Regions from separate parts of the Homo sapiens genome. Here all the other regions are linked to region 3. The links come from fine-mapping of genetic effects on gene expression. A gene starts in region 3. Each other region holds a variant in brackets. All regions are shown on one strand. Distances are from middle to middle. Region 1 overlaps MR1 (major histocompatibility complex, class I-related). Region 2 has its middle 36 kb from the start of IER5. Region 3 holds the start of IER5 (immediate early response 5).

What was found.
Region 1: its variant is fine-mapped to the expression of IER5 in whole blood (TOPMed, PIP 0.96).
Region 2: its variant is fine-mapped to the expression of IER5 in whole blood (TOPMed, PIP above 0.99).

What each region holds. Positions count from the first base shown.
Region 1 is chr1:181,056,495-181,067,329 of GRCh38, forward strand. MR1 (major histocompatibility complex, class I-related) reads left to right here. Exons shown (of 6, transcript NM_001385161.1): 6 at 1-5,444. Among named protein-coding and RNA genes, the nearest start is that of IER5, 27 kb to the right of the region's middle. RefSeq lists enhancers at 5,534-5,663, 6,304-6,353. The variant C/T (reference allele first, on the strand shown) is at 5,834.
Region 2 is chr1:181,119,326-181,130,160 of GRCh38, forward strand. No RefSeq gene overlaps it. Among named protein-coding and RNA genes, the nearest start is that of IER5, 36 kb to the left of the region's middle. RefSeq lists an enhancer at 9,527-9,626. The variant C/T (reference allele first, on the strand shown) is at 5,609.
Region 3 is chr1:181,084,289-181,095,123 of GRCh38, forward strand. IER5 (immediate early response 5) reads left to right here and starts at 4,412. Exons shown (of 1, transcript NM_016545.5): 1 at 4,412-8,612. The coding sequence starts at 4,615. The coding sequence ends at 5,598. LOC124904465 (a long non-coding RNA gene) reads right to left here and starts at 4,213. Exons shown (of 2, transcript XR_007066762.1): 1 at 3,987-4,213; 2 at 3,509-3,582. RefSeq lists silencers at 4,191-4,460, 4,771-4,930, 5,131-5,350, 5,925-6,219 and an enhancer at 5,741-5,910.

The DNA of each region.
Region 1 (10,835 bases), 28 kb before region 3:
CATAGGTTGTCTTCATACATATGCACTGGGAATCAATAAAAGCCCATGGTGAGAATGAACATCCCCTTAATGTTCCTTACTATCCCCAACCCCTGAGGCCTCACCTACTGCCCTGCCATGTGGAGCTACTTGCCCTGGGGCTGCCAGTCACACATTCCTCGGTCCTACTTCTCTGACCCCGTTTGACTCTGCACCTGAGCCCTAATGCTTACTTCAGTGACCTGAACTTTGACAAGTGGCTTTTGTCCTGCACCTCAGGTTTGACCTCTGCTCTCCCTTGACCTTGACTGTGACATTTGACCTTTGGCTTTAATCATTACAGCCTCAGATAAAGGTACCTTCAGCCCGGGCACAGTGGCTCACGCCTGTAATCCTAGCACTTTGGGAGGCTGAGGCAGGCGGATTCCCTGAGCTCAGGAGTTCAAGACCAGCCTGGGCAACACGGTGAAACCCTGTCTCTACTAAAATACAAATAATTAGCTGGGCATGGTGGCATGTGCCTATAGTCCCAGCTACTTGGGAGGCTAAGGCAGGAGAATCACTTGAATCTATAAGGCAGAGGTGGCAGTGAGCCGAGATCACACCACTGCACTCCAGCCTGGGCAACGGAGCAAGACTCTGTCTCCAAAAAAAAAAAGAAAGATACCCTCAGTGTGCCAGGCCTCTAAGAGCTCACCTGCCAGGCTTCCTCCTTGCTCCACTGTCCCATGTAATTCCATATATGAAGCTACCACTGTACATCTCTCTTTTCCGGTGCCTGTTGAGTTGCATAGAAGCACAGTTGTGTTTATTTTGTTTTTAGGGTTGCCATGGGCAATTTCCGTGCCACTTTTAAGCAGTGTTGCACTGTGAAGAGAATGTAGGCAAGTTTATTTCTGGAATGGTTTCTTCTTACAATCAGAATAGTTAGGATGTAATATATTTTTGGGTGGGCATTTAAAGTGAAAAGGTACATATTTACATAGACACAGGTGATAATGTATCTATGTAAATGCCTTTTGATTCTGCAACTGCAGGATACTCTCATCAAAGACACAGATAAAAAGCCTCTGTGTTTCCAAGGCCTTGCCCTACACCTAACACATAATATGTCCAAATGGATGAAGAGGAGGCAAGGACAAGGATGTGATGACAAAACATTCTGTTATGCACTTGTAGCATTTATGTTTCTTCCTGGGGGATTTTATAATACTAAAAGAATCATAATATAAAGAGATGATTAAAAAAAAAATACTGCCGGGCACGGTGGCTCATGCCTGTAATCCCAGCATTTTGGGAGGCCGAGGTGGGCAGATCACCTGAGGTCGGGAGTTCGAGACCAGCCTGACCAACATGGAGAAACCCTGTCTCTACCAAACATACAAAATTAGCCGGGGATGGTGGCGCATGCCTATAATCCCAGCTACTCGGGAGTCTGAGGCAGAAGAACCGCTTGAACCCGGGAGGCAGAGGTTGTGGTGAGCCGAGATCGCGCCATCGCACTCTAGCCTGGGCAACAAGAGTGAAACTCCATCTCAAAAAAATAAAAATAAAATAAGTAAGTAATACCTAAAATTCTGCAACCTTCATTTTACTATAGATGGTTGAAGATTATATTACTTCTTAATTGTTTTAGCCTTGTTATTGCTTCATTACTTCATGGTTGTTGAGTACAGATGCTCAGTAATCATAACCTATGAAATATTTGACACCATGATCTAAACATTAAAAACAAATAACTGTGCTATTGCCACAGCTATGTTTTGGCTTTGAATTTTCTTTACTGAATATTTTGGATCAAGAACACTAGATGAGAAACCTGTTCAACTCTGTTCTTTTTTTTTTTTTTAACTCCACTGTATTTATTACCTGTTTTTGTTTTTTTTGTTTGTTTGTTTTTGATGTGCATATAGACCAAGATGTGGTAAATTTAAATGGCAGATGTTTTTGATGTGGTACATTTAAGGGAGAGAAAGCAGTTTAAAGAGCAGGGTGAAAAATCCAACAAGACTCCATCGAGAGTTTCTGAGCTCTCCCATCAGGGGCCAGTCCTCCTTTCCTCTCTCCTCTTACTCCCATGATTTCCAAGTTGTGATCCTTTCCTTATTTCTGAGGAATGACTTGGTTTCTCCTCTTCTTTTTTTGGCCTGAGAGAAGATGTTTTTGCACTTGTAGCTATGAGGAACAGATTGTCCACTAGGGAGGCCAGCTGATCATTTTCTGCCAGAGTCACACAGAGCAGTCACACCTTATTTTGAAAACCACTGTCTGGGGTCTTTGTCCTCACATATGCAGGTCTAGTGTCCCCACAAAGTGATCAGATGGATATATAAAGTGGAGTGCCAATGTATTAATTTACTGTGAGAAACACAATTGCTAAGTGGGTCAGATATCTGTCTCAGCTGGTCAGTACACCTTCCAGCAGGAAAATCTACATAAGAACAACTAAATCACAATCTGTAGAGTGCTTGATGACCCCAGAATTGGTGCAAGGGGACACATTCTTGCTTGTTAGCACCTGCTCTCTGGAGTTTGCTATTTTCTCACACACAGTGTATTAGTTCACAGAATGTTCTCCAAGGAGGACAGGGGGCTTTGCCCATAGCCATGTGCTGTGGGCAGCAGAGCTAGGAAGAAGCACAGGCATCTCCCAGCCCAGGTGTTTCCCACTTAACTGCATTGCCCTTTTCATCTTTTTTTTTTCCCCAATAGCTTCAGGACATTCAGTACATTGTGCTTTTTAGAGGTTGATGATTCCACTGCCTGAGCTGCCTTCACCTCTCTTTCTTTGGAAATTGCCATCTTTGAGCATTGTATGTCTCTGTAACATCTCTGCATCTCCTTTTCACTCTGGCCTCCCTTTCTCCATTGTCCTTCTAGCTTCTGGTTGCCCCAAACCCCACAGACTGTGTAACAAAACCCAAAACCTATTGGTTTAAAACAATACCCATTTTATTTTCTTTCATAGTTTCTATGGGTCAGGAATTTGGATATGGCTTGGGTAAGCAGTTCTGGCTTCTCATGGAGTTGGAGGCAAGTGGTGGCTGGAACAGAAATGGGGCAGCCAGGGGTGGTGGCCAGGCATCAGCTACATCTCCTCCATGTAGTCTCAGGAACTCTCCATGTAATCTCTCTGTGTGGGTTGGGCTTCCTCACAACATGGTGGCCTCAGGGCAGTCACTGCTTACATGGCAGCTAGCTTCCCTCAGAGTGAGTATCCCAAGAGATCACAGTCAAAGTGCATAGCATTTATATAATCTAATCTTGGAAGTCACAAAATGTCATTCTTGTGATACTCTCATTGGTGAAGAAGTCATAAAATCCTGCTCAGGTTCAAAAAGAGGGTGTATAGAACCCAACACTCAATAGGAAGATTGTCAGAGTTACATTGTAAGAAGAGCATGTAGTTGGGAGATATCATTGTGGCCATTTTGGGAAAGATGCAACATGTCACAATGTCATGTTCTCCATCGTCTCCCCGTTCCACCTTGTACTGGTTTCCAAGGGTAGTCGTTTAAAAGTACCACAAAAACTGGGTGGCTTGGAACAACAGAAATTTATTGTTTCACAGTTCTGGAGGCCAGAAGTTCAAAATGAAGTGTTGGCAGAAACATGCTGCCTCTAAAGGGACTGGGAAAGGATCTGTTCCAGGCTTCCCTCCTATCTTCTGGTTGTTCCTTGCCTTCTGGCTGCGTAACTCTAGTCTTCATTTGGTGTTCTCCCTGCATGCATGGCTTTGTGTCCAAATTTCCTTTTTTCATGAGGCCATCAGTCATACTGGATTAGGGACCCACTCTACTACTGCAGGATGACCTCACCTTCCCAAATTACATCTGCAACAACCCTATTTCCAAAGAAGGCCACATTCTGAGGTACTGGGGGTTATAACTTCAACATGAATTTTTTGGAGGAAACAATTCAACTCCTAACACATCTCTACCCAACCTCTGTAGGTTCCCTCAATCCACCAAAATTTTTTGGCTCCACTGGATTATCTAGCAGTTAGGAAACCAAGATCATTAAATGAATTCACCGCAACTACAGTGAGACTGACTACCTTAGCTTACCTCTGTGAAAGGAGTTAAGCCAAAGGAATCTGTGGAATTTTGGAGAGTTTGGGAGCATTTGGGGGCAGGAGGCAAATGTTCTTCCTTTAAATCACAACACTTAGTTCTCTTCCATTTATAAGACTCACCCCTCCATCCCAACCCCTGCACCACAGGACAAGGAAGTGTTCTTGGTCTTCAACTTTCATCCCTGATGGTGAAAGCAGTTGCTCCTGACCTATTTGCCCACCAGCTTCTCCTCTGGAGCCTGAGGCTTCTGATGCCTGCCTGGCTGGTTCTCAGTAAGAAGGTCAAGTTCAACCAGAGGGGAGATGCTGATGCCTTTCAGTACTTAAATATGAGTTCAGACCCTGGGGCCTGGACATAAGATTTGGGGTCCCCTGGATATAAGATTTCTGAAAACACTCAGACTGTGGAGACCCCTGCTGAGGGAGAAGCCCCAAACTGTGGCTTCAGGGGAATGCACCAAGGCTCTCATTGAGGCCACCTTCTCCAACAAGCTCCCCTCCTGCTTCCCCATGGCTGGCATGGCTGAGGAAAAAGGACACTGAGCACAGCCCGTGCATGAGCGGCTTGCCATGCAACAGGATAAAACCCATAATGCCACTCAGCAAGCCTTGGTTGTAAATCTAGTTTGATTACATTTGTAATCAAATGATGGCCATTTGTTCTGTTTCTGGTTTGTGAACCAACTGAAGACATAAGCAGGGCCTCAGCTAACCCACAAATAGCACATGTGTGCAAACTGGAAAAATGAACCCTTCTTCTGGGAGGACGCCAGCCCAGGCCAGGTCACCCGGCTTGGCCAGCAGAACACAGAGTAGATTTTGGTCCCGTTTGTTCCCCAGTGGGGTATCTATCCTTGTGCAGGGCACAAGCCTACATGGTGGCTCTGGTCATATCATTAGAAAATAGACAGAAATGGGCTGCACACCAGAATGAATGAATTGAATTGAAAGGGAGGAGTGATGGTGGAAAAAAAAACAAGTCAATTCATTTAGACTGGTAGAACCAGAACCACTGTGTAGTACATCCAAACGGTTAAAATTCCCTGGAAGATGTTACATAATCCTATCATGGTGTTTATTTATGGAAATCTATTTTAAAAATTTTATGTAATACTGCACAGTCTGTTTGCATGATGCCTTGTACGTAGTAGCAACTCAGTAAATACTTTTTGAATGAACTAGTATAGTATTTTAATTAGCTAGTCTTCATGTACTGGTACAAAAGAACAGTGTCATCTTACAGCTGAAGTCATAGAGGGGAAATATCCCACTCAAGATCATATAACATTCCAGGTACTCAGGATGAATGGTTTGAGGACTGGTCTGAATTCTTCAAAGGTTTCAGCTGTATTAACATTCTCCATCTAATAAACTTTATCTTGTCATTGCATTGTCTGTGAGATTAGTGATCTGAAACATTCCATCAATACCCCCACCCCACCCAACACATACATATTAAAGACAAAGATAGAATTCGGAGGTTCTTATGGGAGGTACTGTTTTTCTCGAAGGCTATGAGAAGAGGTGCTGAGAAATGAGTTCTCAGCCATCTTGGGGGCCCAAATATCTGAAACCTTCCAGAAATGTAACTAGTCTGAATTTGCTTTTCTGTCACCATTTGGGTATTTGGTTAATGAAAGTTCTTAACATGCAAATTCCACCCACTCTTACCAATGCCCTGAGCTGGGAAGCACCCTGAGCACTCTTACCACACCCTGAGCTGTTGCTTTTCCTCTCCGCCTTGCCCCCACTCCGTGTTGGCTGCACCAGCAGAGGCTT[C/T]TGCATTTGCCCCTGGGCGGGAGTTGGGTATGAAGGTCTGGGCCAGAAGGTTCTGAGTCCCTAAGCTGAGCTGCTGGGTGGCAGCTGGAAGGTCAGGCTGGCTGAAGCCCTGGCGAGGTGACACTGGGTCTGAGGCAGGTGCAGTGGCAGCGGCCAGACCTCTGAGGACACAAATGGGCTAGAGTGTGGGAACAACCGGGGAAACAACCCGGGGGTGGGAAGGGAGTAGGAAGGGGGGAAACAGCTTCTGAGAGGAGGCTACAGGATGAAATGGGAAGCCACGAAAATAAGGAAGTGAAACCAAGGGAGAAATAAGAGTGCCACCCAAGCCGAGGCCGTCCTGGCCTTTCTTCCTTTCTGAGGCATCAGCGCAGATTCTAAGTTTACTTGAACTAACCGAAAGCTCTGTTGTTTTCTGAGCAACATCACAGTGGCATAAATAGAGAATTCCTGGAACACACTGGCAAGACACACGCTCTAGAAGGTGACAATTCTGGGGAAATCTGAAGGGCTGGAATAATAAAAAGTCAAACATTTGGCATCCCATCAGCTGCTGAAACACAACCCTCTCACGTACTTTAAAATACCCAACACATGCACTCTGCATATTACTCACGAAACAGCTACGAATGCACAGTCCCTGTGTTACACACAACAGGAAGTTGCCAAACCAGATGTAACCCACCAAGGCCGAGCACATGGGCAGCCCTTCACCTTACTGTTAAAAGACTGAATGGTCATTGGTCCCTGAGGATCCCTGAAGAAGACAGGCAAGCTGTTCTAATCCAATTTAGGTCTTTGCAACTGAAATTGAGATCAAATTTCAAAGATCTGTAAACTAGTGCAGCTTCACAGACTTGAAATTAGTCTACAAGATGACATGTTTCTGGGCCTAATGATGACATTTTTAGAGACTGCCCCCAGCCACAAGGAATTATTCGTTTTTTCTGTGTGGCATGGTATACACCATATTTTCATTCAAGCCACAGAGTTTTTTTTACCCCAGTTTCTTATTAATAATCTGCCACAAATACTGATATTTAAATCAAATTCTTATGGCCTTCATTAGTTAATCAACCATTCATGAAATATATGCGCCATAAGGCCTGACACTTCAGTGCCTGGCACATAGTAGGCACTCAGTACATATGCATATTGACAAAATGAACTGCTGCTCCTACAAGCCAGACTCTGTAGGCAACACAGCACAATGATGTTCTGAAAATTAGCAAGTACAAAAATGGCCCAGACATATGCTTATAGAAAAATCAAGCTCACATCACAGAAAATAATTTTAGAGATTGTAATCTAGAATGCATTTCTATAAAACAGTCCCTGGGTTTTCTGCTAACAGAAGAAATACAACTCTGGCTGGGGGCACGGTAGCTTACACCTGTAATCCCAGCACTTTGGGAGGCCAAGGCGGGCAGATCACTTGAGGTCAGGAGTTCGAGACCAGCCTGGGCAACATGGTGAAACCCCGTCTCTACTAAAAATACAAAAAAATTAGCTGGGTGTGGTTGCTGGTGCCTATAATCCCAGCTACTTGGGAGGGTGAGGCAGGAGAATCACTTGAACCTGGGAGGCAGAGGTTGCAGTGAGCCAAGATTGCACCATTGCACTCCAGCCTGGGCGACAAGAGCGAAACTCTGTCTCAAAAAAAAAAAAAAAAAAAAAAAAAAAAGAAAAGAAAGAAAGAAATACAACTCTGACAGTGAGCTTTCATAGTAATACTGAAGACACAGGTTGAATAAAACTTTCAAGTGAGATGGGAGGGCCTGCACATAAATATGCCATGAAACAAAGGACATGGGGAGGATGAAGGGCTCAGCACTGCCTCCTTCCCTGCAGCCGCTGGGCTGGGCTAAGAGGACCCATAGGCAGTGGCGATGGCGACAGCAAGGAACTCAGAGATGTTCAGTGAGACAGAGGAACTTCTAATCCTCTAGTTTCCTTTTGTCTTCCTGATAGCCTATCCTCAGAGAAATAATTCCCTTACTAAACGCCTAAGTGCTTTTCAGCTCTGCCACTCAACTGACACTTAGCTATTCTGTGTTGGTATTTATCTGTTTCTGCTCGGCTTATCTCCCTGGCTGGACTATAAACCCCTTAAGGGCACAATGTGAATTCTGTGTCCTTCACTTAGTATCAGGGTGATCTTAAGTTGTTTAACTTCTCTGAGCCTCATTTTTATAAAACCCGGGGCTAGTCAATACCTGTCTTCCAGTGTCAAAGTGGGGATTAAAGGAGATGTGTGTGTGCAAGCATATTGCAAAGAAATGGCATCTGGGATGTGTCTTCCTCTACGTGCTCTCCAGGGACTGCTCCCCATGTCCCATATAATCGCAGCCACCATTTATGGGTGCTTACTATGCACTGGGTACTTCACATATATTACTTCTATTCCTCATAACAACGTTGGCAGCAGGTATTATTATTATTATTTTGTTGAAGTTCAGATAAATTGTATTTCTTGACAAGGTTATATAGTTAATAAGTGGCAGAGGCATGATTCAGACTCAAGACACTGTCTTGAGTCTGGGCACTGTCCTATCTGCACACAGGGCACTGTCCTATCTGCACACAGTAGGCCCACTCCATCAATGCCTGACCAAAACTGTGAGGTGTCATCCACTTAAAACTATTGAGGACTAAACTCTGATTTTTTTATCTTGCCCAAATTCTTATCTAAGGGGACTGGGGAGTCATGCTCTATAAATCATAAATTCTCATCAGATGGGTTTTATTTAACCCTACATATCATGATTTATTTTCCAACTTGACTCTGACATAACATTACCAGACAAAGAAGAAAATCAAAATATTTTAACCTGGCCAGGCGTGGTGGCTCACGCCTGAATCCCAGCACTTTGGGAGGCCGAGGCAGGCGGATCACAAGGTCAGGAGTTCAAGACCACCCTGGCCAACATGGTGAAACCCTGTCTCTACTAAAAATACAAAAATTAGCTGAGCATAGTGGTGTGTGCCTATAATCCCAGCTACTTGGGAGGCTGAGGCAGGAGAATTGCTTGAACCGGGACCCAGGAGGCAGAGGTTGCAGTGAGCCGAGATCGCGTCACTGCACTCCAGCCTGGGCTACAGAGGAAGACTCCGTCTCAAAAAAAAAAAACCCACAAAAATTAGATGGGCGCAGTGGCAGTCACCTGTAATCCCAGCTACTCGGGAGGCTGAGGCAGGAGAATCACTTGAACCCAGCGGAGGCAGAGGTTGCAATGAGCCGAGATCACGCCACTGCACGCCACTGCACGCCAGCCTGGGTGACACAGTGAGACTCCATCTCAAAAAAACATATATATATATGATATGTAATATATTTAATATTAATTTAAATATATCAATTTTAATGTAATTTAAATATTAATATTAATTTAAATATATATATATTTTAAACCTCAAAACATGTTTCTTTGCCTTATTTTGAATTGGCCCTGCAAAGCTGTTCTTTGTCAGGGGAAATTTGCATCTGTAAAGAATCTCTATTAACATAGCTAGATCTTTTTCTTCCAGACCCTCCCAATCCTAAAAAGATTAACTAAGATCTGAATAGGAAACATTTGTCCCCTATTGTCTTTAAGCCACTGTAAGACTTAAAAAGAACTTTGGTCTCCACAATCTTTATCTTAACCTGAACATTCCCTTTCTATCTATCCCAGGTCTTTAGGCAAACTCAACCAATTGTCAACCAGAAAATGTTTAAATTCACCTATAGCCTGGAAGCCCCCACTTTGAGTTGTTCAGTCTTTCTGGACCAAACCAATGTATTTTTTAAATGCATTCGATTGATGTCTCATGCCCCCCTCAAATATATAAAACCAAGCTGCTCCCTGACCACCTTGGGCACATGTTCTCAGGACCTCCTGGGCCATGGTCACTCACTCACATTTGGCTCAGAATAAATCTCTTCAAATATTTTACAGAGTTCGATTCTTTTCGCCGACACTATGTTCTGTACTTAATCTTGGGAACAAAGGAGTTCAAACATCTGTGCAATGAATCAAAAATTAATAAAGGCCCTGATAAATTTAGGAAAGTTTGAATCTTTTTCCTCTGACTTTGATGATGTGACTTAAAGGCTGAACAAGGCCTAAAGGGCCAAATGAAGCAAGTTACCACACATTTCATGGACATGTCAGTGAAACCCGTGGATAACATTCGCTACTTGTTGATTCTTAGTATATGGAGATGCTGGTGCATAAAGGAAAAAGTATAAGCTCCCTCACCTTGCAAAAACAACTCACCCAGGGTAGATCTATGGGCACACAGAATTGCAGAGCTGGAGGGCCCATTGAGTGTCATATAGTTCAATTTTCTCATTTTTTTTTTTTTTTTTTGAGACAGAGTCTCTCTCTGTCGCCCAGGCTGGAGTGCAGTGGCGCAATCTCGGTTCACTGCAACCTCCGCCTCCCGGGTTCAAGCAATTCTCCCGCCTCAGCCTCCTGAGTAGCTGGGATTACAGGTGCCCACCACCACGCCCAGCTAATTTTTGTATTTTTAGTAGAGACGGGGTTTCGCCATGTTGGTCAGGCTGGTCTCAAACCCCTGACCTTGTGATCCACCCATCTCGGCCTCCCAAAGTGCTGGGATTACAGGCGTGAGCCACCGCGCCCGGCAATTTTCTCATTTAACATATGAGAAAATTGAGGCTAGAGTGAGTAAAGTGATTTGCCAAAAGAAACCCTGAAACCAATGATAAACCTCATGTCTTGACATAAATGTTCAACATCTCTAGTCATTAGGGAAATGCAAATTAAGAGCACAATGAGCTATCACTGCATATCTCTAAGAACAGCTAAAATAAAAGAAGGCTGGGTGCGGTGGCTCACACCTACAATCCCTGCACTTTGGTAGGCTCACTTGAGTATCACTTGAGTCCAAAAGTGATACTTTGGGAGTATCACTTGAGTCCAGGAGTTCAGAATCAGCCTAAGGAACATGGTGAGACTCTGATTCTATAAAAAATTAAAAAAAAAAATTAGCTAGG
Region 2 (10,835 bases), 35 kb after region 3:
CCTCAGGGAGCTCACAGTCTACCAGGGAGGTGTCACATGTACTACTGCAATTAGAGGTCATTTTTCTTCCTGGGAATGAGTGTCTCACAGCAGCCAGAGGTTGAGGCTTTGTCTTAAGGTGGAGGTAATAAAAACCTGTTTGTTTTCCCAGAGCAAGACTTGCCTCAGGGCCCCTGCTTGTTTGAGACAGGGCATTCAGTTTGCCTGAGTCAGGCTGGGGAGGTTCTTCTAGTCTTTGGAATCCTGTTGGGCAGGGTGGCTGCAGGGGATCTGGAAGAGGTAAGGCCTGTCCCAGGGGTGGGGGCTGAGGAGGTGGACATGAAGAACTCCCTGGATTAGGACAGTGGCCCAGGAGGGGAAAAGAGATGTTTGGGTGGTAAGAAAAACAGAACGAGAGAGTAGGAGCAGCTGGCCACCCAGCAACCCTGACCACAGTCCTCTCCACCTAGCTGGAACGGCGTGTGATGAAAAGAACCAAGCTGCCCACACACTCGTGGTGACAGCACTTTAACACAGAAATATCCATGATCACAGTCATCTTCAGATTCAACCAATATTCATGGAGTTCCCACCGTGTGCCAGCTAAGAGGCTTGGTGCTTTTCCACAGCTATCTTCTTTAGCCCACATTCTCTCAATAATTCTATGAAGTAGGTGGCTCACTCCTGTAATCCCAGCACTTTGGGAGGGCGAGGCAGGCAGATCACTTGAGGTCAGGAGTTCGAGACCAGCTTGGCCAATGTGGTGAAACCCCATCCATCTGTACCAAAATTACAAAAATTAGTCAGGTGTGGTGGCACATGACTGCACTTCCAGCTACTCAGGAGGCAGAGGCACAAGAATCGCTTGAACCTGGGAGGCGGAGGTTGCAGTGAACCGAGATTGTGCCATTGCACTCTAGCCTGGATGACAGAGTGAGACTCTGGCTCAAAAATAATAATTCTATGAAGTAGGTAGCAGCCTCATTTTACAGATAAGAAAACAGAACTGTGGAGGCCTAAGAGTACACAGTGAATACTCACCAGATTTGGGTTTGAACTCATCCTGCTGGCAGGTTCTATGGGACACCACCTAGATGTCCTTTAAGTATTTATTTATTTATTTATTTATTTATTTATTTATTGAGATGGAGTCTTGCTCTGTCACCCAGGCTGGGGTGCAGTGGCGTGATCTTGGCTCCCTACAATCTCTGCCTCCCGGGTTCAAGCGATTCTCCCACCTCAGCCTCCTGAGTAGCTGGGATTACAGGTACCCGCAATCATGCTCGGCTAATTTTTGTGTGTGTGTATTTTTGTGGAGACGGGGTGAGCCTCAGGTGATCCACCCGCCTCGGCCTTCCAAAGTGCTGGGATTACAGGTGTGAACCACCACGCCCGGCCTCCTTTAAGTATTTCAAATTCATTTTATCTAAAACCAAGTTCACTGCTCTTGACTCCTCCAGGGTTCCCTTGTCTCAGTAAATAGTCTCAGTGCAGCTGCCTGGAATGTGGATGTTTTCCTAGATACTTCCCTTTCTCTTGCTCCTACTCTCTAGGTCTGTTTCTCTTACCACTTAAACATCTCTTTTCCCCTCCTGGGCCACTGTCCTAATCCAGGCTTGAATCATGTATCAGCCTGGTTATCAGAATGGCCTCTAGCCTGGGCTCCCTGCCTGGAGCCTCCCCACCCTCTCCCATCCACATTGCTGCTGCAGGTACCTCTCTGTCAAGATAAATGCAAACCCATTATGTTCGTTGAAGGGCCCTTCTGGACTGGACCCTGATTGTTTGCAGTGCCACATCTCCTATCCAATCTTCCTGCACATTACTGTCCCCCAGGCAGGTGACCTGTGTGTGGTTTCCCGAGTGTGCCACACCTCTTGTCTGCCACATGCTTTGCTCAAGCTGTTCTTTCTCTCTGGCCTCCCTTGTTCTCACCCATCTCTGCTCATCCCCCCAACTTCTATTTGTGTCTTCCAACCTAGCCCCAGTTTCACCCCTTTGTGTTAGCATTTCCAGATGCCCCAGGTGGAGGTATTGCCCCTCGCTTCTGCTACCTGTCCCCAGAACAGACCGTGGGGCTCTGCTGACCAGAATTGGAGTTTTGGATGCTTGGCAACTGTAGTCATTGTTTGACAAATGAACAGCCTTAGAAAATAGTGTTTTAAGTCGAGGAGACACTGCAACATAAAATAAATTTTAGAAAACTATGTATATCTTGTGTAGTTCATTATTCAAAGGAAGAGAGTTAGCATTTGTTGAAGCCTACTACACTCTATGCCGGCCCTTTACATGTGTTATGTCACTTAACCCACAATGCTAGGACTGAGGCACAGAAAGCCTAGATGGCAGACCCACAGTCACTCCGCGGTTATGGGCCACACCTAGGGATCAAGTCCAGGCGAATTATCTGCTCCTTCCCTGCCTCCTCTGGCCTCTCCTATTTACAGGCAGGCTATCCAGTGTGGGGATTCTTTTCTTAGCTATCTGGAGGCCTATCAGGACTGTGACAAGGGAGTAGACAAGGGATAGGGGACCAGGACAAGAGGATCAGTGATGCCCAAGTCCCCACAACTCGATGTGTTTTCTTTTTTCTTTTTGAGACAGAATTTCGCTCTGTTTCCCAGGCTGGAGTGCGGTGGTATGATCTCGGTTCACTGCAACCTCTGCTTCCTGGGTTCAAGCGATTTTCCTGCCTCAGCCTCCTGAGTAGCTGGGACCTCAGGCATGTGCTACCATGCCCAGCTAATATTTGTATTTTTAGTAGAGACAGGGTTTCACCATGTTGGCCAGGCTGGTCTTGAACTCCTGGCCTCAAATGATCCTCTCACCTTGGCCTCCCAAAGTGCTGGGATTACAGACAGGAGCTACTGTGCCTGGTCTTGTGGTGCGTTTTCATCACACCTTACTGTGTCTCTCCAGAGGCACAATTCCTACGGTAGGATTGTCACAAAGTGGCCTGAAGGCTGACAGCATTGTGACTCCACGACCAGGCACATTGGGCCTATGCCCCCGTGGCCCATTTCAGCATGGAGAGAAGCAGAAACAGAGCTGGGCCCCGGGTTTTCCCAGGAGCCTGGAGCAGGGCCCTCCCCTCCCTGTCTCCTTGCTCAGCAGTGTGCTTGGTGCCAGCTGGTGCCCAGCACAGGACTATTGCATGAATGAAGGAATGATTGGGTGCATTCCAGAATGCCATGCTTCTCAGGAAGGAGGAGAAGGGAGTGCTCTCCCTTGTTCTTGGGTGTCTTTCCTAAGGTCAGGAGAATTTCTACCATCATCCAATTCCTAGCGCTCTCTCCATGCTCCCCTCCTTCTCTTCTCCCTTCCTTGGCCCCTTTTCTAGTCTCTTACCTGGGAGATGAACATATTATTTTACTTTTGCTGGCTTTGGGATCCCCTAGAGAATGATCCATTCAACACTTATTCACCAAACACTTATCGGGTGCCTTCTCTGTGCTTGCCAAGTGTGAGGCTCTATAGGTAGAAAAAGAATGAGGAAATGCACCTGACCCCCAGGAGCTCATGCACAGGGGGCAGCCTGACAAGGCAATGGGTTACAATGGCATTTGACTGGAGGTGAGTGCAGTGAGGGACACCAGGAAGACTTGGATGGATGGGACTCAGGGAAGGCATCCTGGAGAAGATGAGAGCTGAGCCGAGGCCTGAGCACTTGCATGACCCTGGGAGTGAGTGCCCCCTTACACTTTGTGTCCTTAGTCCCAGCTCTGGTCCTGAGGATGGGTTGGAGTTGGTGGGGGAAAGGGGAAGACAGTGATGGGGAACAGCTGGGAAGTGCCTTCCAGGTAAGGGAAGCAGCTTGTGGCAGAGGCCTGAAGTGAGCCCCATGGTTCCTTCATGTCCACCCCTCTGGAGGGGGCGCCGTGTGTCTGGGACAGCTGCTAGTTAGTGCCTGTACCTCATCAGTCACACCCAAGAGCCAGACCATTGTCCCCACCCCCCTTGTTACCAGTACTCTTTTTGGGGAGAGAAGGTAGCTCAAGGTGGCAAGGGACTGGCTGTTGTGGGCTCTGACAGCTTCTCAGCCTGTCTACCAGAGTAATAAAATAACTGACACTTAGTGCTCACCGTGAGTCAGGCACTGTTCTGAACAAGCACCTTACATGCATGAACTCACCTAGTTCTATGAGGATGGTGCTATTACTATCATCCCAACTTTACAGATGCAGACACTGAGGCACAGAATGGTGGAGTAACTTGTCCAAGGTCATACAAGCAGAGCCTGGATTCAAACTCAGGCAGTGCAGTCCCAGAGCCCATGCACCTAACCACTATACTGCTTTTCCTAATACTGCTGAAAAACAGGAGAGAGTAAATGCCCTTTGGGCAATTTGTAGTAAGTACTACAGGTGTAAAATGTATGAAAAACTCACATCTTATCTTAAAAACTCACGTTCATTGTGACCGGGCACAGTGGCTCACACCTGTAATTCCCAGCACTTTGGGAGGCTGAGGCAGGAGGATCGCTTGAGCCCAGGAATTCGAGACCAGCCTGGGCAACATGGCAAAACCCCATCTCTACAAAAAAATATAAAAATTTGGGCGTGATGGTGCATGCCTGTAATCCCAGCTACTTGGGAGGCTGAGGTGGAGGATCACCTGAGCCCAGAAGTTGAGGCTGCAGTGAGCTGTGATGGTGCCACTGCACTCCAGCCTGGGCCACAGAGTGAGGCCCTGTCTCAAAAAAAAAAAAAAAAAAAAAAAAAAAAAGTCATGTACGTTTTGCATCTATGGCAAAACAAAATCTCTGTTTAATAAAAATACCTTCCACCAAATAATCAAGTAGAATCGGTGCTTCAGAGAGATGTGGCCCATGTCTTCTGAGGCACTGAGTATCCTCAGACAGTCTGCAGCAGGGAGAGCCCAGCCAAGCACAGCTTTCAGAACAGGAGGGGCTCAGACCAGGCTGCAGGAGGTGGGAAGAAGGGACTTGAGTTTTCACATGGGTGCTAGATTGCTTTCCACCCTACATCTTCTCACCCTATTTATACTAGTGTCTCTCTGAAGTCAGAGTGCATGCTAGGAACATGGACAGAGACTTCCCCATGTGACCATCAGTGTGAAGGACTTCTGTCAATGGACTACTCCCATGTTATGGTCACTGGGCTGCCTTGTTGGTGGCTGCTGTTTCTCCTCCTCCCCTTCCCTGCTTCCCCTTTCCTTCCTCCCCCATCTCTTCCTCCCCTTCTCCTCCTCCTCCTCTTCCTCCCCCTCCTCCTTCGTTGTTCCTCCTCCTCCTTCCTCGTTCCTCTTCCTCCTCCTCCTTCCTCTTCCTCCCTCCTCCTCCTCCTTCTGCTTTGTTTTCTTCTGGAGGAGGCCTCCCTAAGAGTCATGTTAGCCCACACACATGAGATCAGACTCTGGGGAACCTATTCCATTTTAGCTGCAGCATTTAGTTCTTTCCAGTTTTCTAATTCCTCTTTTTTTTTTTTTTTTTTTTAGTTCTAGTGTTTGCTTATGTTGAGCCACTGCAGAAAACCCCCCTTGAGTGGGCTTAAAAAATAACAGCCACCACTACAAAACCCAACATTTTTATTATTTCTTTACCCTCCCAGTTTCCAAATAGTTCCCTCTTTTGGGGCACACATTGACCATCTTTCTTCTGTCCCAGACA[C/T]GAGGTGCACTGTCGCATGGCTGACTGTGAGGCTCAGTGGGGCCATTTCTGTTGAACATATTGCAGGTGAAACTGCCCCAGCTTTCTTCTCCTCTGATGTCTTTCAGCCCCATCATCTCTGAGGTCTCCTTAGGGAGACCTCCTCATTCATTCATCCAGTGGATAATTATTGAGCACTTACTATTGGCCAGGTGCTGTTCCAGGCACAAGGGTGCCATGGAAAGCATGATAAAATTGTCTTGTGAAGCTTACATTGGTCAATGGAGACAGACAAACACCCAAGATGTAAATAAATTTAAAAGGTTCAGATAGTTATAAATGCTATGAAGAAAATAAAATAAAGTAATATACGGAGCAACAAGAGGAAAGGAGAAGAAACATCAAGTGCCAAGATCCCAGAGTAGGAAAAGACTTCAAGAATGGAAGGGGTATCAGGGACAGCGGGGAGGGGGAAGGGACAGATCACACAGGCCTTATATGCCATGGGGAGGAGTTTGATTTTATTTTTTGTGCAGCAGGGGAGCAACATGATCACTTCATGAGAAGGACCATCCTGGCTGTTGTGGAAAATGGATGGTTGTGACCAAGAGTGAGAACAGGGAGACCAGTTGGGAGGCCATTATAGTCACCCAGGCCTCGGCTGTGGTGGCTTGGAAGGTGCCCCCTTGGATGGGGGCAACAAAGAGGGTGAGAAATAGATTTGAGGTAGATTTATTTTATTTTATTTTTTTGAGATGGAGTCTCACTCTATTGCTCAAGCTGGAGTACAGTGGCGCGATCTCTGCTCACTGCAACCTCTGCCTCCTGGGTTCAAGCCATTCTCCTTTCTCAGCCTCCTGAGTAGCTGGGATTACAGGCGGCGCCACCACACTGGCTAATTTTTGTATTTTTTTTTTTTTTGAGACGGAGTCTCACTCTGTCGCCCAGGCTGGAGTGCAGTGGCGCGATCTCTGCTCACTGCAAGCTCCGCCTCCTAGGTTCATGCCATTCTCCTGCCTCAGCCTCCTGAGTAGCTGGGACTACAGGCACCTGCCACCATGCCCGGCTAATTTTTTGTATTTTTTTTTTTTTTTAGTAAAGATGGGGTTTCACCATGTTAGCCAGGATGGTCTCGATCTCATGACCTTGTGATCCGCCTGCCTTGGCCTCCCAAAGTGCTGGGATTACAGGCGTGAGCCACTGTGCGGCCTAATTTTTGTATTTTTAGTAAAGACAGGGTTTTGCCATGTTGGTCAGGCTGGTCTTGAACTCCTGATCGCTGGTAATCCACCTGCCTTGGCTTCCCAAAGTGCTGGGATTACAGGCATGAGCCACCACGCCTGGCCTGAGGTAGATTTTAGAGGCAGACACAGTGGAGTAGAAAATGCTCTTGTCTGGGACCCAGAAGTCCTGGGATTAAATCCTGAGTTCACCACTCATCAGATGTGGGAGCTTATACAGATGGCCTAATGCTTCAGTCCCCTCATGTATAAAATAAAGATACCGGCACCTACCTCCCAGTTTCTCAAGAAGGGGAGCTGAGGAAGGCAGATGTGCCCAGCATGGTGCCTGTGAAACAGGGCCTCCGCCAAGTTGCTTAGCGAGAATGAGTGTGGGTTTGAGTGTACTCCAGAGAGGTAGCTAGGCACTCCAGGCATTTCCTGGAACTCACTTGTCCTCTGTTAAAAAGGTGGAAAGGAAAGATTGTCACCCAGGCTATTGGGAGTGGGCGCATCTTCCAGGTAACTCAAAGTCAACTCTGAGTAAACAGGTAAGGGTGTATTTGGAAGCCACTCATTGCCTTTTAAATTGGGACATGGGTTTTAGGTGAGGGTTGGGAAATGCCTAGGGCTGGCAGGAGAGAATGGCCTGAGGGGCTCATGGCGGCTGGGCCAGGCAGGAGGGCTTGAACCTGGGGGCGGGCCTGTTGCATCCAGAGGGGCAGCTGGTAGAGGTGGCTCTGGAAATACGGGCTCTGGCAGATGATGGAAGGAAGACTGGGGAACAGTTTGATGGACTGATAGGTTTCCAGAGACTCTCAGCCAGCCTGGATAGTGACCTTTTGCAGGTGGAGCTGGTCAGTTTTGAGGCCTTTCCGTGGAAGTTCTGAAAGCAGAGGTCCCGCCCCTGGAAATCCCCCAGCCTACGCCGGCTTGTTGTTGTCCTGCAGCCCTGTGGGAGCTGCCTGACCCTGGGGCAGGGTGCACGGACTTAGATTAAGGCCAGAACCAAAGGTCAGCTTAACTGGAGTAGTATCCATGGGCTATGCCCCTTTCTTTTTAGCTCTCTGAAGTGTGGATGCTGCAGCATCAGGTTTCTGAAGGGCAGGAAAGGGGAGCTGACGTCAGCAGAGCACCTATGGAGCACCTGGCACTGTGCCAAGCAGCCTAGACTCCTCATGACACATGGGTAAAGCAAACATTATTATCTCCATTTTTTTTTTTAATAGTAGGAAACTGAGGCTCCAAGGGTTGGAAGTAGCTTTTCCCATGTCACGTGACTGGTACTGGGAACTCGAGTCTGCCCTGCTTCACAGCTCTTGTTCCTGCACAAGTGTCTCCGGAGAGGCTGGGGTACATCAGAACCTCCAGAGGAGGGGACTTGGGAGCTTGATGTTTAAAAAAGCAACACAGGCATGTGCAATGGAGAACTGAATTGGAAGCTTCTGCCTGTGGCTTTTTTTTTTTTTTTTTTTTTTTTGAGATGGAGTCTTGTTCTGTCGCCTAGGCTGGAGTGCAGTGGTGGAATCTTGGCTCACTGCAACCTCTGCCTCCCAGGATCAAGCAATTCTCCTTCCTTAGCCTCCTGCGTAGCTGGGATTACAGGCATGTGCCACCACACTCAGCTAATTTTTTTGTATTTTTAGTAGAGACGGGGTTTTACCATGTTGGCCAGGCTGGTCTCAAACTCCTGAACTTATGTGATTTGCCTGCCTTGGCCACCCAAAGTGCTGGGATTACAGGCATGAGCCACCGCGCCTGGCCTGCCTGTGGCTTTATTGAAGGCCTTAGTGGGGACATTGTTAGGTGCCTGCTTTTGCAACACCACCTTAGCAGGACTTACAGAATCTTAACTGGAAAAGAAACTTTAAACTGTATTAACTAGGCCGGGCACCGTGACTCATATCTGTAATCCCAGCATTTTGAGAGGCCAAGGTGGTGGTTGTGGTGGGGCTGGGGGGGTCATTTGAGCTCAGCCTGGGCAACACAGTAAGATCCTGTCTCACTATGGGCAGGGTGGTGCGTGCCTATAGACCTAATCACTTGTGGGGCTGAGGTGGGAGGATCGCTTGAACCCTGGAATAAACTGTGTTAACTGACTTTCCAGCTATGATGCCTGGGGAAGTCATTTAACCTCTCTTAGCCTCAGTTTTCTTGTCTGTACAATAGGGATCAAAATGTTTACCCTGCAGAACTCTTGAAGGATTAGGGATGTTATAGGAAATGACTTAGCATAATGCCTGGCCCAGCTAACCACTGAATGAATGGTAGCTGTTAACATTAACCAATGCGTCATTAAATCTTCTTTTTTGTGAGGGGACTGGGGGATTGTTGGCTCCCCTGTGGTCTGCTCACCCATTGCTGAGGCCCCCTCCTTGGCACAGCCTGTTCCATAGAAAGAGCAGACTGCCAGCCACTCCTCTCCTTCTTCCTGAGGAAGCCCAGTGTCCCCACGGGCCATCGGACCCTTGCCCCTGGCGCTTGAGGCTTGGACACATGGTGACACCCTCTGCTTTTCAGCTGGCAAGCGTGCTCCCTCTCCAGGCTGGCCCCAGGGCAGGCCGGGCAGGGGGAGCTGGCCTCGTACTGGGGATGCTGGTCCTCTGCCCTGCTCCTCTGCCAGCTGGGCGGCTGGGCCCGGCAGCAGCTTGGACTAGCTTGAAGGCCCAGCAGGGGCCTCTGTGGGCGGCAGCCTCCCTGAGCCCCTCTTTTAGCACCGGGCCATCTGGTGCCTCTGTCCCCTTTTGTGTGCCTGCGGGGAGAGGAGGGGAAGTGAAGGGGGAGGAGACAGGAGATCTCTCTGGCCAGCTTTCTTCTGAATTGAGGAGAAGGAGGAGTTTGAGACAGAGGGGAGCAGGGCCTGGGAAAGAGGTGGAGGGGACTCTAGGCTTGGGACTTAGGAGGAAAGGAGGAGGGAGACATGAGAGATGGGGGGGAGAAAGAAAGCCCAGAAGGAACGGACGCTCTAGGATCCTGGGTACGAGAGCTCAAAGGGAGAAGAGAGCAGAGAGAGCAAGCCAGAACCAGAATGCTGTGTGGAGAGGAAAGGGAGTGCTGCAGAAGAGGGAAGAAAAGCACTCAGGAAAGAACGATGTCCAGGAGTTGAAAGGGGTGCAAGACTCTCTCCAAGTACAATGTGTTAAGTTGGTGCCTTATTTCTGTTCTTGGAAAGAGGAAGTGAGAGTGTGTGGGTCGGATGCCCTTCCCTGGTCAGGCTGAGGGTCAAAGGGAGGGGCGGCTGAGACCTGCAGCGTGAATTTCCGCAGAGCAGCCTGGGGCCCAGCCTGGCCCTGCCCAGTGGCCATGCAGGTTGGTTCCCAGTCATGGCAGGCACCAACTGCGGACTCCCTAGGGGTGGGAAGAAAACGTCTCCTACTAATACCCCTTTGATGGGGTTCACCTGGGGAGTAAAAATGCATTACTGAGGGCATTAGAGGCATGACTTTAAAGAATGTCACGTTTGGGATTTTACAGGCTTTGAAGCACCTGTCCCCTGCCGGATGGCAGAACATCCCGTGTCTTCCATCAGGTCCCAATGGCGTGGCATGAATGATGCAGACACAGGAATAACAATAAAAGCATGTGGCTTTGTGCTTCTCTGGTGCCATGTTCATTTGGGCTCACGGTCTGCATTTGGTGTAGTCACAGAGGACACAGAGAATGGGCTATTTTCTCTGCTGAGGACAATACAGACTGGACTTGGGTTGAATGCCTGCCTTTCCCTGGCTCTGTTCCTGGAGCCCGCTCAGAGTTGAGCTCCTCTCCCTGCTGAGTTCTTCCAGGCAGTGGCCCCCTCCCTCTACACTCTGGCCCTGAGGTGTGGTTAGCCCAAAATCTGCCAAGTCATCTGCATAAGGCCTTATCAGGGTCTGTCTTCCAGTCCCATCTGGAAAGTACTGTCCTTGAAGTGGGAAATCTTTGCAAATGAACGCACGACTGAGGCACTGGGAGAGCACACTAGGCATGAGAAAGTTGAGTGTGACTGATTTAGTGCATGTAGGTCCATTTAACATCAACCAAGTGTCAAG
Region 3 (10,835 bases):
ATAGTGTCAACAGCAGTGGGCAGAGCAGCCTGTGCGACAGGAATCCACAGGCTTGAGCCCAGATAGCGCCTGAGTGACCTCAGACAGCTGTGGAAACAGCAGAGCCCAAAGCTCCTTGTACTAATCTGCCTGTGCCCAGCAGAGGGGTGAAAAGACAGAACAGACCTGTGGGAGGTGCTCTGGCCTTTTCTTCCAGAGCAGTTGGTTCCTCTGTTCTTCTGACAACCCTACTGTTTCTGATCATGCTGCGAACTTCTCTTTTCAACTGACAAAATCTCAGAGATGGATGATGGCAAATTCTAACTCAGTTCCTGCTTGCTAAATCTTAAAAGAATATGCTATCGTCCTGCTTTTTTTGGTAGGTGGAGGTGAAGTTTCCTGATCATACGAACTCGGGCCCTCCAGACATGAGTTCTAAAGGTTCCATTTCGTTGGCTCAGGATCAAAGAAAATCCTGATAATGACAGTGATAATGTGCAACTTGCAAGTCATCAGACATTTATTAAGCACCTATTATGTGGTACAGCAGAAAAAGCATTAAAAATTCAACAAGTACTAAGAGTGTACCTACTATGTGTTCAGAACTGTGCTAGGCACTGGTGTGATAACAATAACCATAATAACAACAATAACTAAGAATTATAAGTGTTTATATGGTGCTAGGAACTGTACTAAGCAATTTAGTTATTTTTATTATTCCCATTTTTCACAGGAGACTGAGGCACAAAGAGGTTAAATAACTTGCCTATATAAGCAAACTAAAATATGGATTTCCCATTTCACCTAGAGGTGAGATGACTTTCCAAAGGTCACACAGCAGTGAGAAGAGGAGCCAGGCAATCTAGCCCCATGACCCCACATTGGAGCTTTAAGTAGGTTAAATGTAAATGAAGATAATGATATCTACTTTCAGAACTTTATAAATGTGCTAAATAATGCATGTACTATGTCTAGCACAGTGCTTGGTAAACATTATTATTATTAGGAATTCATTAATCCAAGTGTATAATCACTCAGTATGCACTGGTACAGCCAACCCAGTTGTTAAAGTATTGAAATGTTTCCATGTCAGTTGATAGAACCTCTGCCCTAAGCCCGTGAGTAGCCCCCTTACTGGCCATGCAGCCCCTCTTGCAGGAGCCCTCCAAACCCCTAGCATTGTAAGGGCCTCCAGGACCCTGTTCTGATGGTTAGTGCCTGTACTGCACCAGCTGTTATGTATTTTCACCATATCCTGGCTACAAATATGAGCTGGGCTCCTGCCTTCAATGAGGGCATAGTCTGGGAGGGACACTGGGCATGACAGGAGAAAGTGATGAGGGCAATGATGAAGGAGTGTGCTGAGTACAGTGGTGGATGATGGAAAAGCTCAGCTCAGGCAGGTCAGAAAGCCTTCATGGAAGGCAAGAGGCTTGACACTAGCAATAACCTGCCTGGATGGGTGAGTGGGAGCATCCCAGATCATCACTAAAGTTCTTTTGTCTCTCAGTTTCCTCATTTTTTTTTTTTTTTTTTTTTTTTGAGATGGAGTCTTGCTCTGTCACCCAGGCTGGAGTGCAGTGGTGCGACCTCCGCTCATTGTAACCTCTGCCTGCTGAGTTTCAGCAATTCCCCTGCCTCAGCCTCCCAAGTAGCTGGGATTACAGGCACGTGCCACCATGCCCGGCTAATTTTTTGTATTTTTAGTAAAGACGGGGTTTCACCATGCTGGCCGGGCTGGTCTTGAACTCCTAACCTCGTGATCCGCCCACCTCGGCCTCCCAAAGTGCTGGGATTACAGGCATGAGCCACCATGCCCTGCCAGTTTCTTCATTCTTGTTGCCTCCACCTAGTTCAGGTCTTCACAACCCTTTGCCTAAATTTCCACAAGAGCTTTATGTGTGCTCTTCTATGCACCAACTGTTCTAGAATCTATTCTGTGCTTCCCTTACTGAACAACCTTTAGTAAGGTCCCTGTGGTCCTATCTCCTCATCAAGGCACCCACAACCCACTATCATGCAGCCTCGGCCTCTGTTTCTAGCCTTTCCCACTTGCTTTTGGGCATGTGCCCAGCACAACTGCAAAGTAAGATGTTCCCTACACTGGACTCTGTTGCTCCTGCTGCTTGGAACTTGTGGATCCTACCTCAGAGGTTTTCAGCACCCTCTTCAGATACAACTTCTTTGGTGAAACTTTCTCCCATCTATGTTCCTTTCTTCTCCCAGCCTCTTCTCCCACCCCAGGGTAGTATGTGGGGTAGTGTGTTCTGAGAACTAGCCTACATTGATAGCTTATTATATGCCAGGTGCTGTTCTATGAGCTTTGCATGTGCTACCTTGTTCTACCCTCACAAAAACTCTAAGAGGTAGGCATTATTATTATTATATTTATATTTATTTTATTGTATTTTTTGAGACAGAGTCTCACTCTGTTGCCCAGGCTGGAGTACAATGGTGTGATCTCGGCTCACTGCAACCTCTGCCTCCTGTGTTCAAGCAATTCTCCTGCCTCAGCCTTCCGAGTAGCTGGGATTACAGGCACCTGCCGCCATGCCAGGCTAATTACTGTATTTTTTTTTTTAGTAGAGACAGGGTTTCACCATATTAGCCAGGCTGGTCTTGAACTCCTGATCTCAAGTGATCCGCCCACCTTGTCCTTCCAAAGTGATAGGATTACAGGCGTGAGCCACCACACCCGGCTGATTATTTTGTAATAAAAAAGACGGCAGCACAGAGAAGTGAAGTAATTTTCCAGAGGCCATGCAGCAAGTGAAAGGTGAAGCTGGGATTCCAACCTAGGAAGCCAGCCTCCTCAGCCTGTGCTCTTAGCCATTGCTTTATAGTGACTAATAACTTGCAAAGAAAAAGAGAAGAGAAAAATTCTTGTGTCATTACTCAATATATGCTATTTGGTTTTGTAATTATTCGTGTCATTATTTTATATCTTCCTCTACGTGGGCTGAAAATTCCTAGAGGGGAGGAACTCTGGGTCTCAGAGCCTGCTGTCTCAGTTACCATCAGTTGTGGGCACAGGTAATGCTATTGAGCCATCACATCCTCTGGAGATTGTGAATTGGTCATGATCAAGCCCACTCTTCACTGGTATTTTTCCTAAATAAATTCATTGCTTGACCAACCCCGGGGCAGGATCAGGCCCAGGGTTCCACATGGACTCCAAGAAAGCAGTGCTTAGTTTTCTCATTCAGATTGTGGCTGAGAAGTTGTCATTTATCGTCTGTACAATAACGCAGATGTGTATGTGACTTCCCCCTTTTCAGCAGTGGAGACACTGAAGCGGCCTGAGGTTATTTACCCAGAGTCCTCAGGCAGGTCTGTGGTGGAGCTTCGGTGGAACTAACTGGAAGTGACTCCATGTTTCCAGTCCAGGACCCTGGGCAACCCCGTGGTAATTGTGTCCTGATATACTTATAAGGACCAGTAGATGGACTAAGTTGTTGACTGACCAGAAAATTCTGGAACTCCCTAGCACTATATTTTTACCTTGACACGAAATGAAATTATGACATCATCATGGGAACACAGGACTTCTTTCTTTTTATTTTCAGAACTTGCTCGATTTTTCCAAGGGTGGACTGGTCAGTCCTTGTAATGGAAAAATGGAAATGGAAAAAAAAAAGGAAAAAAAAATCATTGTGGAGAACCTGTAACATCTTCCATTTAACTTATTTGATAACTGGGTTTGTTCTAGAATCTAGAGAACAAAGTGAAAGATGCCAGCTTTAGAGGACAACCAATAACTTTGTATCTAGACACGATTCCTTGAAAAGAAGCCAAAAACCTAGGCAAAAACTTTTAGAATCCCCCTTTTCTTTGGGGTTAGAACTGACAGCTGCTAAGAGTGTATGTGACTCTAGCGGGGAAAGCGGCTCATCCAAAAATAATGATTGCCAAATACTTTGCAGTAATACTATTTGTTATCCAGGGGTGTCCTCCGCCGCGTATGGCCACCATCTCTATTTTTGCCAGGGTTGAGGGGGGTCGCTTACAGGTGTGGCCGGCCTGGAAACGGTGGTGTGGCTGGTGAGGGCGGAGTCGATCAGGGAAGGATCAGGACTTTATGGCAGAACAGAGTCCACCACCGTGTTCGGAAGAAAGTTCGAATATTTTGTTCGCTTTGGTTCCGGCAAGCCATCGCACAAGCCAGAATCTGTAACTCCAAACAGTAGCGCTCTCGAGCACCGTCCCGAACATTCACTCCCCACGGGCCTGGTCTGCGGCCGCAAGCCGTCGCCCCCTTTAAGAGCCTGCTCCGCGGGACTAACGTTCGAACGGGCCCTGGCGCCCCTCCTCGGGCTCCGATTGGCCGTGCGCGGCGCACGAGGGCGCGCCGGCCAGCCCCGGAACGGTTGGCGGCCCTTCGTGATTGGCGGTCGAGAAGCCTATATAAGGCGCGGGGCAGCCAGGCTGCCCTGTTTAGCGACCGGACCCGAAACGGGGAAGTTGTCTTGTTTGGAGAGGTTAGTAGAGCAGCGCGCGCGTCACCAGAGTCGTTTCTCTTCGGAGTCTTAGGTGATCGAGGGTGTGCCCAGGGGGCGGACTTGTTTGCGCCTCCCGTTCCCTCCCAATTTCCAAACGTGTCACCCCGGCGCCGACGGCCCTGTGCAGGGGAAGCAGATGGAGTTCAAGCTGGAGGCTCATCGCATCGTCAGCATCTCTCTGGGCAAGATCTACAACTCGCGGGTCCAGCGCGGCGGCATCAAGCTGCATAAGAACCTCCTGGTCTCGCTGGTGCTGCGCAGCGCCCGCCAAGTCTACCTGAGCGACCCGTGCCCCGGCCTCTACCTGGCCGGTCCCGCTGGGACCCCGGCGCCGCCACCGCAGCAGCAGCCCGGGGAGCCGGCGGCCGGGCCACCCGCCGGCTGGGGAGAGCCGCCCCCGCCCGCCGCTCGTGCCTCTTGGCCGGAGACCGAGCCGCAGCCGGAGCGCTCCTCCGTCTCAGACGCGCCGCGGGTAGGGGACGAGGTGCCGGTGGCCACGGTGACTGGAGTCGGGGACGTTTTTCAGGGCGGAGAGGCGGACGCGACGGAAGCTGCCTGGAGCCGCGTGGAGGGGCCGCGCCAGGCGGCGGCCAGAGAAGCCGAGGGTACCGCCGGAGGCTGGGGCGTCTTCCCCGAGGTATCTCGTGCCGCGCGCCGCCCCTGCGGCTGCCCCCTAGGCGGGGAGGACCCGCCGGGTACACCGGCCGCGACCCCCCGCGCTGCCTGCTGCTGCGCGCCGCAACCAGCGGAGGACGAGCCCCCCGCGCCGCCCGCGGTGTGCCCCAGGAAGCGCTGCGCGGCGGGGGTGGGCGGCGGCCCAGCGGGCTGCCCGGCGCCCGGCTCGACCCCGCTCAAGAAGCCCCGCCGGAACTTAGAGCAGCCGCCGAGTGGAGGAGAGGACGACGACGCGGAGGAGATGGAGACCGGGAACGTGGCTAACCTCATCAGCATCTTCGGTTCCAGTTTCTCGGGACTCCTACGGAAAAGCCCCGGGGGCGGCAGAGAGGAAGAGGAGGGAGAGGAGAGCGGTCCGGAAGCCGCCGAGCCCGGGCAGATCTGCTGCGATAAGCCGGTGCTGAGAGACATGAACCCCTGGAGCACAGCCATCGTGGCCTTCTGAGCCCTTGGCCCCCCTGCGGGGAGGAGGTGGAGCAGCGGGCGTCCCCGAAGTGAGGGCCAGGCCCTTCCCGGCTGCGAGGACGCCCAGAGACCGCGGGCGCTGAGCGCGTTGGGCAGACTGGTTGCCTCTGGGCATCGCAAACTGCCCCCGGGCGCATCTGGCTTATCTGGAGACCTGGGAGCTTGAGGCTCATTGGAAGAGGACGATCGTTAACTTTTGTGTTTGTGTATGTCTGTGTATGTAAGTTTGTCTTGTGGCATTAAGACTATTTTGCTCTTCTGGAATGCACCACTCCTTCCCCAGGGTTTAAGAGATTGGGGGCAGACAGGGACTTTCCTCTGCCGGCTGCGTGGAGAAGGAAGCGGCTAAAAGGTTTGGGCCGGGGAGTTCCCCATTCGTTCTCCGGGGAGGGAGGGACTTTACACCTACCCCTCACCGGAAAGCTAGACCCGCTTCAGGGCCAGGAGTGGCGTTTCCGCACAGGATTTCCTAAGACGAGAGGGATTTAGCCAAGAGCACAGACTTGGATTCCTTCTGTCCCTCCCCACCTTTCTCTCCCAATGAAGAAACGTTTATATCCTGTGATTACTCTAGGAAAGGGGCGTATTAACGGTCCTTTGCTTCCCCGCAGGGGAGAAAAAGCTTGACGAACTTCACAGAAGAGTTCAAGCTTGGAAATAATGGAGTTTATAGAGAAAAGATATATTTTTAAAAGCTCTAGGTCAGAAGTACTACACAGTGCTTTTAAAAAGTGTTTAATGAGAGTTTACAGACAGAAGCCCGAAGTGGAAAGACCTTATGGTTTTGTAGATATGGTGACTCCAGTCTTTGTTGTATAAAGGTTGGGGGAGCTGATAAGGTTTTTGTACAGTATTTTCTCCTTCGTTGTATTGATTTTTGTATAAAAATGTAACTTCTACGTGTCTAACACGTATTAAATATTTTGAAGCAACGTAACTGCCTGCTTGTCTGTAATAACCTGCCTGGGTTGGGAGGGAAGTGGGAGGAGGGAAACCAGGGCCTGAGCTAGAAAATTGAAGGTGTGGTTCTTAGTATCAGTCATTCGCAGACTGAGGACATTGTTTACTGACTCCACTAAGTATCAAGAGAGACACGTTTAATTTTTCCTCCTAGATCAGAGGACTGCTATTAGATACTAATATCGGCGACCTGTCAGGTTCTAGAAACCTGCCACTACAACTGCCTTTTCTAAGGTCAGTTTAGACCAATTTGTCACCCAATATGTGGGTGTCTAATACTAAGTAATTTAACCAACTTTTGAAGCCCCGCTTATCCACAAAAATGTTTTTCAGCAAAACTTTGTTTCCTGTTAAGCTATTAATACGGGTCATCTTTTAGCTTTGTAATTGAAAAAAAAAAAGTTTAGATAGTAGTTTACCTTAAAAGCCCATTCGAACTGACATAGGAAGATGAAAGAGACTGACTTGTCCAAATTGTCAGGTCCACCTCTGCATCACAGTGGATGTCAGGATGTAAATTTTCAGTTTTTCTCTTACATCTAGAAAGTAAATATATTGCTGAGAGGGAAATTGTTTGCATCAAACCAGATAAGGAAGGAGGGCTAGGCAAATTTAGTTCTCATTTAGCAAAACTTCCTGATTTGTTTTGTTACTTAAATGGTGACATCAGTGTTTGGTCATGGTAGACACTTAGGTGATGATAGCCAAAACATCCATCGATTTTACTAAAATCACTGCCATTAAGAGAGTTTTTTGTCTCTTCATGTTCAATGTTTGAAAGGTATTCAGTAATCTATTTCAGAAGCAAATCAATTAGGGAATGGTGTTTATTAAAATACGGTACAGTTGCCAGGACTTTAAAAGATGGTACTGGTTTCTAACAACTTACGAGTATATAGGGTATTTAAAAGATGGGAGAGATTGAAGAAAGACAAAGGTTTAAAGGTCATAGCCTTCGAGCATAAGAGGCATATGAATGGTGTCTTGGCCTTAACTCCCAATTATACGAACTTCTGTTTTAGCTGAATAGGCCAGTGCCTCGTGCCTTGATATTTCGGCAAATCTATTAGTGGTTCCTTAAGCATAGGGAACTTTGTACTTTATGCTCTGTCGCCATAATAATGTATTTATAGAATTAAACATTCTCAAATTAGGGTCTTGTTAAACTGACTTTTTCTTTCAGAAAGTAGCTACTTAAATTCTGTTACAGCTACAAAAGATCCATCAAGTGCTGACTGCTTAAACTGAAGAAGGTGTCCAGGGCCTTAATTCTGCAAACATTTCCTGTTGTTAGAAAGTATGATGCTTGAACAGCGATCTCAGTGTATTTTATGTTTTAAAGGGGGTAACGTTTGGTGTGTTTAAGAGAGCTGATGTGTTTTGGATGAGACTAAAGTTGATCCTTGGTTTTACATTAAGATGAACCTGGGTCCATGTGTCTGCTTAAAGAATGTAAATTGGCATACTTGATAGGAGGATAAAGCTTTGTAGGAATTAGAAAAGATCATTCTCTTTTTTGTTGCAGAAGCAGTATAGTATAGTAGTTAGAGCATGGGCCCTGGAGCCAGGCTGCTTGGTGTCTTCCTTTATTTATTTATTTATTTAATTATAAAAAGTAAATATAAAGTGAGCTATGTTGACCAGGTTCGTCTTGAACTCCTGGCCTCAAGCAATCCTCCTGCCTCAGCCTCCCAAAGTGCTGGGATTACAGGCATGAGCCACCACAACCTGGCCTGCTTGGGTTTTTCTATCTTGGCTCTGCCACCTAGCTGTGGGTCCTTGGACAAGTTACTTCATCTCTCTGTGCCTCAGGTTTTTCAAATGTAAAATTGGGATAATTGGATCTGTCTCATAGGGTTGTGAAAATTAATGAGTTAATGCTCTTAGAAGAGTACCTCATATGTAATAAGCACGCAACTGTTAATTATTGTTAATGTAGAAGTTAATTCTGTGTATAAATCAGATACACTGTGGTCAAAGATTTGTGTGTATTTGTAAGAAAAGAGGAGAATGGAGAATCTATTTTTAAGTGGTCCTATGTGTGAATGCTGGGTTCTTTTATTCCTCTTTTTCTCTGGACACTTGGCAGTCAGGAAGCTTTGTTCTACCAACATAGTTTTGTTGCTGTGAATGTCTCACACCAACCGGATGATTTTTCCAATTGTATCAAACAACTCTATTTTCAGGGAGGAGTAAGCTGAAGTGAAAACAGGCAAGGAGCAAAGTTCTTGTTGACATACAAATGCTTTCTGTGGATGAGTAAAGAAAAAAGTAGCCCATAAAGTTATTTTTGCTTGAATTATTGCGCATGGAATGTTTAAAACATGCTTATTGATAGGTTCTGGACAAGAGCCTTCCCAATGCCAACCTAGGGCTATCACACAACCAAATCAGATGCAGTGTGACTAGAAACGATGCCATGGTTTTAGTACCTAACCACTTCTTCACCACTCTGGGAGGGACCTAGTCTCTTGATCAAATTAACCTTAGCTCTGGGGTGTAAAAAAACCTTCTGACTGCTGCGTAAAAGCCAGATGTTTAAAGTGCTTTCCAACAAGTACTCCAAGAAGATCACATTAATAGGGAATAAAGTCTGGGCGCGGTGGCTCACACCTGTAATCCCAGCACTTTGGGAGGCCGAGGCAGGTGGATCACCTGAGGTCAGGAGTTCAAGACCAGCCTGGCCAACATGGTGAAACCCTGTCTCTACTAAAAATATAAAAATTAGCCAGGTGTGGTGGTGGGAAAAAAGAGAATAAAGGGATAAATGTTAGTAATGTATTTTTTTTTTTGAGACAGAGTCTTGCTCTGTCACCCAGGCTAGAGTGCAGTGGTGTGATCTCAGCTCACTGTAACCTCTGCCTCCCTAGTTCAAGCGATTGTCCTGCTTCAGCCTCCCAAAGTGCTGGGATTACAGGCATGCACCACCACGTCTGGCTAACTTTTGTATTTTTAGTAGAGACGGGGTTTCACCATGTTGACCAGGCTGGTCTCAAACTCCTGACCTCCGGTGATCCACCTGCCTTGGCCTCCCAAAGTGCTGGGATTACAGGCGTGAGCCACTGCCCCCGGCCTAGTATGTACTTCTCAACCATGTTGTTTTAACCCTGTCTTCCCTTTTAGAAACCATCATTTGTTCTTGGCGATGGGAACTAATGATGGAAAGCCTGAATTGCTCCTCCAAGGTGACTGGGTTTTCTTTATGGCACCAAATAACCTTTCCATTCCTTCTACTCATCACTGATTGGATTTGGGAGTGTGAAGTGAGAGGAAATGGGTCATTTGACAACTTTGGTGGAAAGCTTCTCAGAATAAAGATGTCAGAAATATTGGGAATGAAATTAATAATTATAAAACTGTTCCATCTTATCACTGGGTTAGTCTGAGTCTCTCTTACTGCAACTTACTAGGCATGATAACCTAGCCTCAGATCCTGTGTGATGGGGTCGACAGGCTAATCCCACTGTGATATGGCATTTGATGGACATTTATTTCCTTGTACTTTTTTAAAAAAAAGTAGAGTTAGTTCAGTTCACTGAATAACCAAAGGATTTCTGATCTCTTGCCCTAAATATTTTATTCTTCTCCTGTTTGTGAATTTTTTATTCTTCTAGACTTCCTTTTATCCCAGCAGTCCCTGAAAAAAGACAGGAATGAAAAGAAACGCTGATCCAACCTTTCCGTGACTATGAAAGAGGCCATTACTATGAGGTGCAGTGCTCCGGTGGGGAGGGAGGCCTGCTTCCCAGGATTCCTGGCACTCTTTCCAGTAATGAGCAGTTTGTCTCTCAGCCTTTGAACCATTGTTCAAATTTAAAATTCAACCCAGTGGAAAGCCTTGGGAGGAAAAAACATAGAAGGAGAGTTGATGTTAGGAATCACTGTGATCTTAACACATGCCCTTGGAGTTTTTCAGTAATAATTCTTAAGGGTACGATAGGGAACAAATGTGGAAGAGCAGAAAGTGTGAAAGGATACGCACATCTAGCTGAATGCCTCCTTCCTGATTCAAACACAGTTTTTCCCAATGCCTGCTACCACTGCTCCCTCCCGCAGTGGGAATGGGGGTTTTAAAATAAAATCTCTCTCTAGCAATTGCTGTCTCCCAGAGGAATACAGCCCAAAGCTCTTTGCTGGACTACAGCCTGGGGTTTATCTCAGACCTCTGGAATCCTTCAGGCAGGGAAGGAGAAACCTCCAGGGACTGCATTCCTGAAAGGGCCTCTCCTCTTTCCTCTCCAGACCAGCAGCAGCCTC